Linked DNA regions of Homo sapiens. The protein of the gene in region 2 purifies or fractionates together with the protein of the main gene of each other region. This does not show direct contact. Each region holds a gene or a part of one and is shown on either strand. Other genes may lie near its edges. The genes, in order: QPCT and NUBP2.

Region 1 (7,291 bases), on a different chromosome or scaffold from region 2:
AGCTCCACTTCTCTCCAGTAATAGGACTGTCATTACACATCCACATCCTTTGCCTGGTAACTTTGCTGTGCCCTCCCACTGTAGCCAGTTGTACTTCCTCATCCCTTCACTCTGGACTTCATTATTTGACTTGCCTTAGCCAATGGGATGTTAGTAGAGGTGACACAAACAGGGGCTGGAAGTGTGCTTGTGCCATTGGGCTTGCTCTTCCGTGTCTTTGCCATAACCATGAGAATGGCATGCCCTGGCTAGCCTGCCAGTCCCAGCAGAAGGATGAGACACCTGGAGCAGAACCAACCTTGCTGACTGCACAGTGAAGCAGAGCTGCCCCAGCCAAACCCATTCTAGATCAGCTGCTCCCTAGCTGACCAGCAGAGGTTATGTATCCCAAGAAGATACATAATGGTATTTTAAGCCACTGTGTTGATGGGGTGTTATTCTATTCTATTATTGCAACATTAGCTAACTGATACAGCCTTGAATGGGGAAGGACTGCAGATAACCCAGACTGTGTGAACGCTGGTAATTAGGCATTTGTAGTGTTACCATGAAGACCTTCATACATCAGGCCAGTCAGATTCTCCTAGCTCCAAGGTACTAGGCTGAGTTACTAGTAACGAAGGCCATGGCTATTTTTCTGCCATTCCTGAAATGAAGCAAAAAGAGCAGGTTGCCTCATGGGACTCAGGATGAATGTCCACAACAGTTTATTGCTGGCTAAATGAATGGATATTAGGCGAACAGAATGAAAGCAAATCGTTGTACTGATCATTGGAGTCTCCCAGCTGTTGAAGTTTCACTGAGGTACTTGAACTGTCAAGCCTGCAAGAGATAAAAACTATTTCCGTTTGCCTATGCCCTGGGCATGAGCAGAATGCCTCTTGTCCCAACCGGTCCCGTTCTGCCCTCTTGTTCTGCGATTATGTTGTCTGATTTGAAGCTAGAACTTTCAAGGCCCTTTAAACAACTGGAAGCTTAGAATGTCTCTACTGAAGCAAGCACCTTACAATTTTTGCCAACGAGAAAATCTGTTTAATTATTTAATGCTTATTAAACCCTGAGTGCATTTATATTGCACAAACACATCCTCTGCTTAATGCTCTCCAGGAGTTATGGAGGATTCAAATCAAATTACACTGTCCTTTCCTCATGGTATAATTAAGGAGCAATATGAAATGATTAGCGTACAAAATTAAGTTAGTTTTCAGATGATAAAGACAATTTTTTTCTCTTTTGAAATCACCGTTAAAACAATCAGGGAAACTCCATTTTTTGAAGAAAGTAGAGAACATCTGTGAATAGGAACCACAATATGAAGACAGAAGTTGGATGGAGAAATGGCAGATGACATATCAGAGTGGAGAGAAGTCACACTGTCCTGGAGAGGGAAGAAATGGAAGAAGCCAGTGGTTTCCTTGATAGAATCCTAAAAAGGCTCAGGAATTAGAGATGTGATAAGCTGAGGAAGGCAGAGGTGAGGAAGGGGCTGGTGTGGAGAGTGTTTCTAAGTCTGTCTAAGGAATATGTGGATGTAGAGATTCCCACCCCACACCAGGCAGGTAAGTGAGTGCCCCCTTGTGCCTTTGCCACAGATGAGAAAATATTTTTCTGGAGAAATTGAACCAGGGAGGTTATGGAATTGAGAATAGCAAGTATACAGGAGGGTGACAGTGGGGCACCCCATGGAAATCGGGGAGATTAGGCGAAAGCCTACACATTGAACAGTGAGATCTATAGTTTCTCTCCCATCTTCAGCACCAGAAAGCCATCAGATAGGAAACTGGAGGATTCTTCTTCAGACCGTGTGAACCACCCCGCAGAAAAATCCCAGATGGTGACATTCAGTAATCCTCAGTGAAAACACTGGCTGGGCACCAGATTGCCTTGCAGTGAAGCCAACCAATCTGTGTCTCCAACCAGCATTTTAATATCTTATTCTTTAACATGAATGAACACAAAGGATGACCAGACATTTGAGGACAGACTCCAGCATGAAAGAAAGGGCCTGGAGCAGTGGCTCATGTCTGTAATCCTAGCACTTTGGGAGGCCGAGGTGGGAGGATTGCTTGAGGCCAAGAGTTTGAGACCAGCCTGGGCAACATAGTGAGGCTCCCTCTCTACAAAAAAAAAAAAAAAAAAAAAATTAGCTGGTTATGGTGGTACACACCTGTAATCCTAGCTACTTGGGAGGCTGAGGCAGGAGGATTGCTTGAGCCCAGGAGTTCAAGGCTGCAATGCACTATAATTGAGCCACTGCACTCCAGCCTGGGCAACAGAGTGAGACCCTGTCTCTTAAATAAATAAATACTTTTTTAAAATGTAAAAAAAAAAAAAAAAAAAAATAGAAAGCAAAACAAATCATACAAATTTAAAATGAAGTGGGAGGAAATAGAGCAGAAAATGACTTAAAGGACACTGTTCTAATATTCTTACAGAGATAAGAGGAGACATTATATCTATGAAACAAAACCAGAATGCTGCAATAACAGAACAATTGGTCAATAAGGAGGAGCTTTTGGAAATTAAAATTTCTATTTTCAAAATAAATAAATCAATAAAACAGTTGGATCCTAAAGTAGAAGAAGTATCTTTTTTTAGAAGAGGAATGACAAAAAGGAGACGATTATGACTTTTGGAGAATAATTGTAACAATTCCAGTTAGGTCATATAAAAAGTATTGGGAATGAGAATGGCACTGGACTTCTCAATAGAAACTTTGGGAGCTAGAAAACAATGAAATTATGCCTTAAATATTTTAAATAAAAATAATTTGCAACCCAGAATCTTCAGACCCAGAAAAATTAAATAGGAAAATAGAATGAAGACATTTTCAGAGGTAAATCTCAACAATTTTCACTCCCATGTACTGTATTTTTGCCCTAGAAGTTGCTTAAAGCTGTGCTCCAGAAAAATCAAGAAAGAAATCAAGGATGAGGGAGTCATGGAGTTCAGCTCACTGGGGGTCCCATATAGGAGAGGCAGAAATCTGCAGGTTGATGGTGAGGGGAGCCCCAAGATAACAAACAGATAGGCAGCAGGCCTAGTGGTCGGTCCAGGCTGGAGCAGGCAGCAGAGGGCTCCGGAAGGGCCCATTCTTAAAAAACAAAACCAGACAGACATGAGAAATAAAGGTGTGATAGTGTCTGGAACGCTTGACCACATAATGGTGAAGACATATTAGGCTCAAAGAAAACAAAGCAAATGAAAGAGAGGCCTGTGGTGAGGAATGGTGGGAAACAGGTTTGCAGAGGCAGGACGAACTGGATTGCGATGTTTGTGTACATGGAAAAGGACAGAAAGAGACAGATCCCCACTGGTTTTTGGTCTGAGTAACTGCAAGGGGGGTTTTGCCATCCATTTGGTTGAAGAGACTGTTGGTAATACAGATTTCCGGGGGAACCTCAGGAGATGAGTTTTGACACTTTGTTCGAGGTGTCTATTAACGTCTATGTGGAGATCTTCATTTGGCAACTGAAATTGTAGTCTGGAGATCGGCAGTGAAGTCAGGGCTGGAGATATATTTTTTGGAATTGATATTTACATGTATGTGTGTGTTGTGTTGTGTGTGTGTATTATTATAATATAATACAATATAATATAACATATAATATGTATATATAGAGAGACCAGCCTGGGCAACATACTAAGGCTCCGCCTCTACAATATTATTATTATTATTATTATTTTAAAATAATTATATTAAAAATTTTATATATATAACAATACACACACAACACAGCACACACACACACACACACAAGACAACACACACATACCCACACATATATGATTTAAAGCCTCAAGAAGAGATATCAAGACAGTGAGTGAGTGTGGACAGAGAAGAGAAGAGAACCATGGAGCAAGCCCCTGAGGCTCTCTAGTGTGAAGAGGGAAGGGAGATGAAGGGAGCCATTAGTGCTAAGGTAGGAGGAATATGGTATCTTAGGAACCAAATGAAGCAAGTGTAGCCAGGAGGGAGTAATTAACTGTGTTGAATGCTGACAATAAGTCAAGAGAGATGAAGACTGAGAGTTGACCACTGGATGTAGCCATGTAGAGTCATTGGTGTCTTGACAAGAGCAGTTTCAGTACACGGTGGAGATAAAACCCAACTGGGCTAAGTTTAAGAAGTGGGATTGGAGACAGCGTGAATAGACAACTCCTTCAAGGGGTTTTGCTATAAATGGGATTACAAAATTGGGCAGTAGATGGTGGAGATAGTGAGGTCAAATATTTTAAGATGAGAAAAGCAACAGCATGTTTGTTGGCCGATGGGAATTATCCAGCAGAGATAGAAAAATTGATGATGTAGGAGAGAAATGGTATTTGCTAGAGCAATGTCCTTGAGCAGATGAGAGAGGATAGGATTTTGTGCATAAGCAGGGAGACTGGCATCTGATATGAGCATGACAGAAAGAAATCAAGGTCATCGGTTGGGAATGAAGATGGGTGAGGTGGCAGGGAGAGGAGGAATGTGAAATCCTAGAAGAGTGCCAGAGTGACTGAACTAAGAAAATACAAATGACTTGCCAGTCAACATGAAAGGCCAATGTGAGGTTTGTGGTCATGAACTTTAAGCAAGGCCAGACAGTGTGGTTATATATTTTTTTCTCTGGTGAGGTTTAGCTGCACGAGTGCTGGCACAAAGTAGGTAGAGTATGTTTTTGCCATGAAAGTTTGACAAAGGCAGAAAGGGGCAAGGGAGTTGAGGGTGTATGCTAGTGAGTGATTGGCATGATTGACTGGAATTTAAGCCAAATATAGAGTGAAGTGAGGACATTATGGGGGTGAAGGACCATGAAAAGGTGAAACATTCAGTAGATTAGGGGTTCCAGTGGGATTGAAGGACTTTGGAGTTTAGAGTACCAGGACCAATCTGAAAGACAGGGGTTATTGTCAGACGGAGGAAAGTGTAAAATCAGTTAGAATCCTAGTCACTCTTTTTAGTTCCATTCAAATACTGTCTTTTTCATAAAGCCCTCCTTGACACCCCCAGGATTTTGCTTCTCATTCTATCCAATTTCTAGAGGACTTTAATGTTACATTTGTGGCTGGTGGCACATTTTGCCATGCTTATGTATTTGTTTTATCTCTCCCCAACCCAACTAAAGTATAGGCTATTTCAAGGGAAGGGCTATAATTATTATTCTTCGTGTCTGTAGCATTCCTAGGGCAGACTCTTGAAGCTAGACTCAGTACAAAATTGAAGATGTAAATAAGGTGAGAAGCAAGAAAGATTTACAGTTGTTTCAGGTTGGATTCCCCAAGAAGCGCCCTCTGACATGGAGTTTAGTATTCAGGTCACTTATTAGGGAGTGGCCTTGGATCAACACAGGTATCAGGGAGGGGAAAGAAATGGTGTTGGACGGAGGAAGAAGTCGAGCTGCAGTGCAGGTTCAACAACGGCCTCAGCCAACCCCTGCGGAGCTCTGGAGATATGATGGCTCTTTAGAGAGCCCCCCGTACCCGTGTAGGTCAGCACTGGATGTGGGACACTCCCAGGAGGTGCAGCTGAGGCAATTCCTAAAGTGACTGACGGCTCTTCCAGCAGCTGAGGCAACACACCCTCCTGTATGGGAAGTGGGTGGTGTATCACACGATTCATCACAGCACTTTCATTGTTTCAAAATTCTGTGAGGAGTAAGAAAAAATATAAAAGACTTCTATTTTCAGAGGGAATGGAAGAAGGTGGTTTATATGGGTGAAGACTGTGGGAGGTGTGATGACTTTTGAAGAGGAAGTGGTGTGGAATAAATTTTGCCATAGTTTCACTTGCTTTGGTATCTTCCTTTCTTTATGGCACATCTATCTTTTTGCCCAATTAATAGAAAATCATGCTATTTTTCATCATCACAGTATTTTTTTGCTATGTTTTTATTGTTGTTTTTACCAGACTGTTTCAGACTCCAAGCCAGATTTGTCACTCCAGCTGATCTTCTTTGATGGTGAAGAGGCTTTTCTTCACTGGTCTCCTCAAGATTCTCTCTATGGGTCTCGACACTTAGCTGCAAAGATGGCATCGACCCCGCACCCACCTGGAGCGAGAGGCACCAGCCAACTGCATGGCATGGTTAGTCTGGGCAATTTCCCTAGCACTGTAGCTGTAGGCTCCGCTTCCAAGGAAAAGGTTGCAAAAGCCAAGTAAAGACCTAAAAATGCCACAGCATCCTTGGAGCACAGTGTTTATGATAGAACATTCCTTGGCAGGCATTGGGTTTTTGAGGAATCCCAGAGCTAAAAAGAATGATTCTGAGCTGGCTCTGTGGCTCATACCTGTAATCCCAGCATTTTGGGAGGTTGAGGTGGGAGGATCACTTGAGCCCAGGAGTTCGAGACCAGACTGGGCAACATAAGGGGACTTCGTCTCTACAACAAATAAAATAATTAGCTGGGTGTTGTGTATGCCTGTAATCTTAGCTACTCAAGAGGCTAAGGCAGGAGGATTGTTTGAGCCCAGGAGTTCGAGGCTGCCGTGAGCTATGATTGCTCCATTGCACTCCAGCCTGGGTGACAGAGGGAGACTCTGTTAAAAAAGAAAGAAAGAAAGAAAAATTGCTGGTTAGAAGCCATGTTTGACTGAGCTTAATTAAAATGATAAAATCATGTAAAAAATTGGATTACAGGAACTTCAGATTCAGTTGGGCCCAATGGGAGCACATTCCCCCAGTACTGTATGGAGGTGGAGAGAGCAAACCCCTTCTTTCAGGCCTTTATAAGTCTGAAGAACATGGGGCTTTGGGAAATGGAATAAAAGAGGGGTGAGGGTGAAGAATTTCCTTGGTGGCTTCAAAGTATTACCGTGACTCCAGTGTGACTATGACAGTTTGATGTGTTGGTTTTGATGTGGCATTTTTGACATGGGGGTGGGGATATTTTGATGCTGCCTTAAAACCCTGCTATTATTACTAAGTAATGAGTGCAACACACAGCCTCATTTTCATCCCCATTCCTGGGCCCACACTCCATCCCTAATCCCTCCCCCGACCCCTGCATCTTCTCCTGACTCTGACTCTCTTCCCATATTTGATCTTCTTTCTGTCCCCACGTCTTCACTAACCCCAGCTTGGAACCTCATGCTACCCTTGAGACTTCACTAGCCCCGGTGCCTTCATCCCTCCCTGACGCTCACCCCATCTGTGAACTGATAGCTTATTCCCAGCACCCCCGCTTATTCCTATCCATTGCCCTATCACTGACCTTCGCCCTATAAAAGTACAAATGGTCACATTCTGTGTCCTCTGTGACCCTAACACACCTCCTGTTGGCATTTGCTCTCCCTCCTGTTATCCAT
Region 2 (4,018 bases):
CCAGAACATCCTCCAGGAATGATGGCACCAACTCGAATCCCCAGGGGCTCTGCGTCTCACCCCTCCTCTTTGAGGGATCGCCCTGAGGACCAGGCAGTGTCCCCGAGGGGTGTGGTCCAGGCAGCCAGGGCGCGGCTGAGGTGGGGTGAGGAGGGAGCGCGGGGCGGGCCGTCCGCCTTGCGTGGGAAGCCGCACCCCCTGCAGATGCCGTGGGCGTTTGTCTCTGCCCCCCCCAGGCACCGGCATCGTCAGCCCAGGTGCTCCTGGTGCCCTCTCACCCACCCAGAGGCCGCCCGGGTTGGTTCCGGGCCCCCACCTCCAGGGTCCTCCCCTGCTGAAGGCTGAGCTCTTCCTTTGGGAAAAATGGCGCGTTCTGCTTTCTGGAAGGGCTTTCCTTTCGGGTCTCACTGGGAAGAGGTGCAGGGGACCCCTGGGATTGGAGCTCCCTTCTCAACCTGACTTCTGGTCTCTGTCCCGGGAGGGGCCCCTTTAGTGTCCCAGGGAGGCCATTCTTCCACGGCGAAGGGGCCAGCTGTCAGGTTTATCACAAAATCTCCCCGAATTCCCACCAAATAAGATGCAAACACATCAGCACCTGGGCCCAGGGGCTTGTTGACAACGGAACGAACGAACCTGCCGGCCTGGCCCAGTCCAGCCCAGAAACTTACAGAAGCAGGTGCTGTCTGACCCCGAAGGACAGAAGACTCTAGAAACATCAGATCTGTCGCCACAGCAGCGGACACGTTTAATGGCAGGCGCCTCTACAGTTACAAAACATGCCTGAGGTCAGTTCGCCCCCTTAGGGGGCACTCCCCGAGCTAAACACAGATGACAGCGACCCAGGGTGCTGGAGGCCCGGGGTCACCTGAGGACTGCAGAAGTCCCGCGCTCCGCTAACTGTGTGGACACGCGGCTGCCAGGGGCACAGGTAGGCAACATGGATGGGAAGAGAGCCCAGGCCGCCCCCGTCTCACAGCTGCAGAGCACGCAGACCACGGCACTGCAGGCCAACCAGGCAGAGCTGCTGGTGCGACACATCCTGGGGCTGGGCTGGTCGGGGAGAAGCTCTCCGGCTGACGCTGCCTGGGCCTGCCCCTGCAGGGCCCGGGAACCGAGCCCAGGCCTCTGTTTCTCTGAGAGGCTGGAGCAGAGCCCTTGGTGGCCCTGGAAAGCGGCTGCAAGGTGGCCTTAGTCAGGGGAGGCACGCGGGCGTCGCGTCCAGAATCTTCTGGGCTATGGAGGTGAGTGCAGCGAAGGCGGGGCTCCCAGGGAACTCCTGGATGAAGTCGTGGCCCTCCTCCAGGGTCCTCATGAGCGCAGGGTCCAGGGGCACGGAGCCTGCAGGGCACAGTGGAGGCGGTGGCGCCATGTCCGCACCTTCCACTCCCACCATTGGCTCAGCTGGACGCACCCGAACCACCCGTGGCCTTAGAGGGGATTGAGGCGCTGCCAGACGATTTCCACCTCCAGACCCGCGGCCCTCCCAGCAGGCTGGGTCCTGCCACCCGAGAGGGCCCTGAGAAGGGCGCGGGCGAATGACCTGCAGGTCTCAGCGGCATGGCGTGTGGCCCGAGAAGAGAGGAGGAAACCGCTCCCGTCCCCTCCTCTCCCTTGGGCACTGGGGGCATGGAGGTCAAACCCGCCCAGGGCAGAGATGGAATGGGAGGCCGCGACCCCAGCACCAGCTTGGGACACTCACCTAAGAAGGGCACCCCGGCGAGCTGGGCCAGCTCCTCTCCGCCGCCCCTGGAGAAGACGCTGGTGCACTCCTAGGAGACGGTGGTGAGCCCAGCACTGCCCAAAGCCCCCACCGGCCAGGTGCTGCCTCGCCCCCTCTGCAACCCCCGGGACTCACCGTGCAGTGTGGGCAGGTGAAGCCGCTCATATTCTCCACGATTCCCATCACCCGCAAGCCCGTCTTCCTACAGAAGGTCAGCTCGCGCCTCACGTCCCCCACGGACACCGCCTGCGGGGCAGGAGCCGAGGCCACGGTCAGCCAGGCGCACCAGCAGGGACACCCGCCCAGCCCTCTGGGAAGCCACCCACAGGGACTCGGGAAGGTGCCGCAGCGCTACCTGGGGCGTGGTGACCACGAGGGCCCCCAGGGGCTGGTAGGGACGCAGGGCTTCTATGGTGGCCATGTGCTCATCGGAGGTCCCCGGGGGCGTGTCCACCACCAGGTAGTCCAGCTCCCCCCAGGCCACGTCGGACACAAACTGCTTTATCAGCGCTGCAAAGACGGGGCAGACGGGGCGGTCAGGGCAGGGCAGGTCTGCACACGTGGCCCTGCGCCACTAAGAACCAGCCAGGTCAGGCCGAGGGGCTGCAGTCCATCAGGTGTCACTTGCCACCAGCCTCCATCACAGGCTCTCGGGAGGCCCTGGCCCGCTGCAGGAGTGCAAAGATGGGGCCGGGGCCATTACAGCGTCCCTTTCTGCAGTGTCTGGCCCCTGCCCACAGAGCCCCCGCTGACTCCCCGAGGCCCCAAATCAGAACACGGAGCCAGGACCCTCCAGGCGTCTGTACCCACACATGGGAGCACCCACATTCTCCGTGGTGGATGCCCCACTGGTGCACCCACAGCCTGCGCCTCACTCCCACCAGCCTCTCCCTGCCTTTGGGGGCGTCTAATGCCACCTGCTCCAGAGGCACCAGAACCCCCTCAGCTCTGCCCCTATGACCTGCCACACTGGGGCCTCAGGTCCCTGCATGCCATGGCCAGGGTCTCAGCAGACCCCACTCCCTCTGACCGGGAGTTGGGGACAGCTGTGTGGCAGCACGGACCCAACTGGAGACACACCGCCAGCCTGAGCCCTGTGCCTGGTCGTGGGTGTCATGTGCAGGTCCCCAGGAACAGGCCTGGCTGCTGAAGAGGAACATTTCCACAGGAGAGGCCGGCACGGACGCTAACCCCCTTCACCAGGACGGCGGACGCGCCGCCCGGCCGTTACCGTTTTTCTTGGGGCCTCTCCACACCACGGCCTCGTCCGGCTTCTCCAGCAGGAAGCCCACAGACATGAGCGAGATGCTCTGCTCCCGGTCCAGGAAGACGGGTGCCCAGCCGCGGTCGCACTGGTGCACAGCCCTGCCCTGCGCCCCGAGCATGCGGGGGATACTGGGGCCACACAGGTCCACATCCAGGATTCCCACCTGCAAGGAGCGGCACAGCCTAGGCCGGGGGCACCGCCAGGCCTCCACCGGGATGCGGGCAGCTGCCCGGGGCTCCGCCCAGTGAGGGGTAGGGCGCTCACCTTCTTGCCTGCATGGCGCAGTGCCAGGGCCAGCTCCGTGGAGATGGTGCTTTTCCCAACGCCCCCCTTTCCTGAGAGGACCAGGATGATGTGCCTGACGCCGGCCAGGTTTCCAGGCTCTGGGCGGAAACACGACAGAGAAGGTCAGGGCTCCTGGTGCCCACTGTGCCCACACACGCGGGGTCACCCACTGCCTCTTGCACCCACGTTCTGAGCGGGGCAGTGGTGAATCGCCAGACCCAGAGGCAGCCCGTGCCCCACTTCGCCCCGATGTAAAGACCTCCAGGCAGGTCCCCTGCAGCCCCAGACCCGGGGGGACCCTCTAAGACCACGGCACTCCCTGCACCTGCCTGAGGCGGCGCTGCTGAGAGTGGAAACTGCCCAACTCCTCTCGCTGTGTGGAAGGGTGCATGCGTTCCTTCGTGCGCGTGTGCAAACACACACGTGGGTCACATGATCATGAAACTGCCAGCCCCCTGCTATTTCTAACGGGAACCAGACTCCACTCTTTCCCCAGCCAGTGCACCTGGGCTCGGCAGAGGCAGCAGAGGGCCCAGGGTGGGTGGCAACAACCACGCGTTGTCACACACCAGCGTCCCCGGCTCTCGGTCCCTGCAATGTGCGGTAAGTGAGGGGAGCCGGCTGCTTCCAGCACAGCTCCAGCTCCTCTTCCTTCCAGGGTCCCATCCTGTCCCTGCCACACGGCAGGGGCTGCTGTGTGCAGATACCTTGGCAAAACCCCTGCATTCTCACCCCGGCGCCACCGC

The links.
Region 1: the proteins of NUBP2 (region 2) and QPCT purify together in Homo sapiens (affinity purification with mass spectrometry; 3 studies listed by BioGRID and IntAct, with this or other methods). This does not show direct contact.

What each region holds. Positions count from the first base shown.
Region 1 is NC_000002.12:37,361,339-37,368,629, forward strand, and holds part of QPCT (glutaminyl-peptide cyclotransferase precursor), read left to right. Parts: intron 1-5,893; coding exon 5,894-6,070; intron 6,071-7,291. UniProt on the Homo sapiens protein: Responsible for the biosynthesis of pyroglutamyl peptides. Has a bias against acidic and tryptophan residues adjacent to the N-terminal glutaminyl residue and a lack of importance of chain length after the second residue.
Region 2 is NC_000016.10:1,785,889-1,789,906, reverse strand, and holds the end of NUBP2 (cytosolic Fe-S cluster assembly factor NUBP2), read right to left. Parts: coding exon of another isoform or gene 4,005-4,018; intron 3,371-4,004; coding exon 3,252-3,370; intron 3,151-3,251; coding exon 2,952-3,150; intron 2,231-2,951; coding exon 2,076-2,230; intron 1,967-2,075; coding exon 1,856-1,966; intron 1,770-1,855; coding exon 1,700-1,769; intron 1,339-1,699; coding exon 1,193-1,338; coding exon of another isoform or gene 894-1,192; 3' UTR 721-893; downstream 1-720. UniProt on the Homo sapiens protein: Component of the cytosolic iron-sulfur (Fe/S) protein assembly (CIA) machinery. Required for maturation of extramitochondrial Fe-S proteins.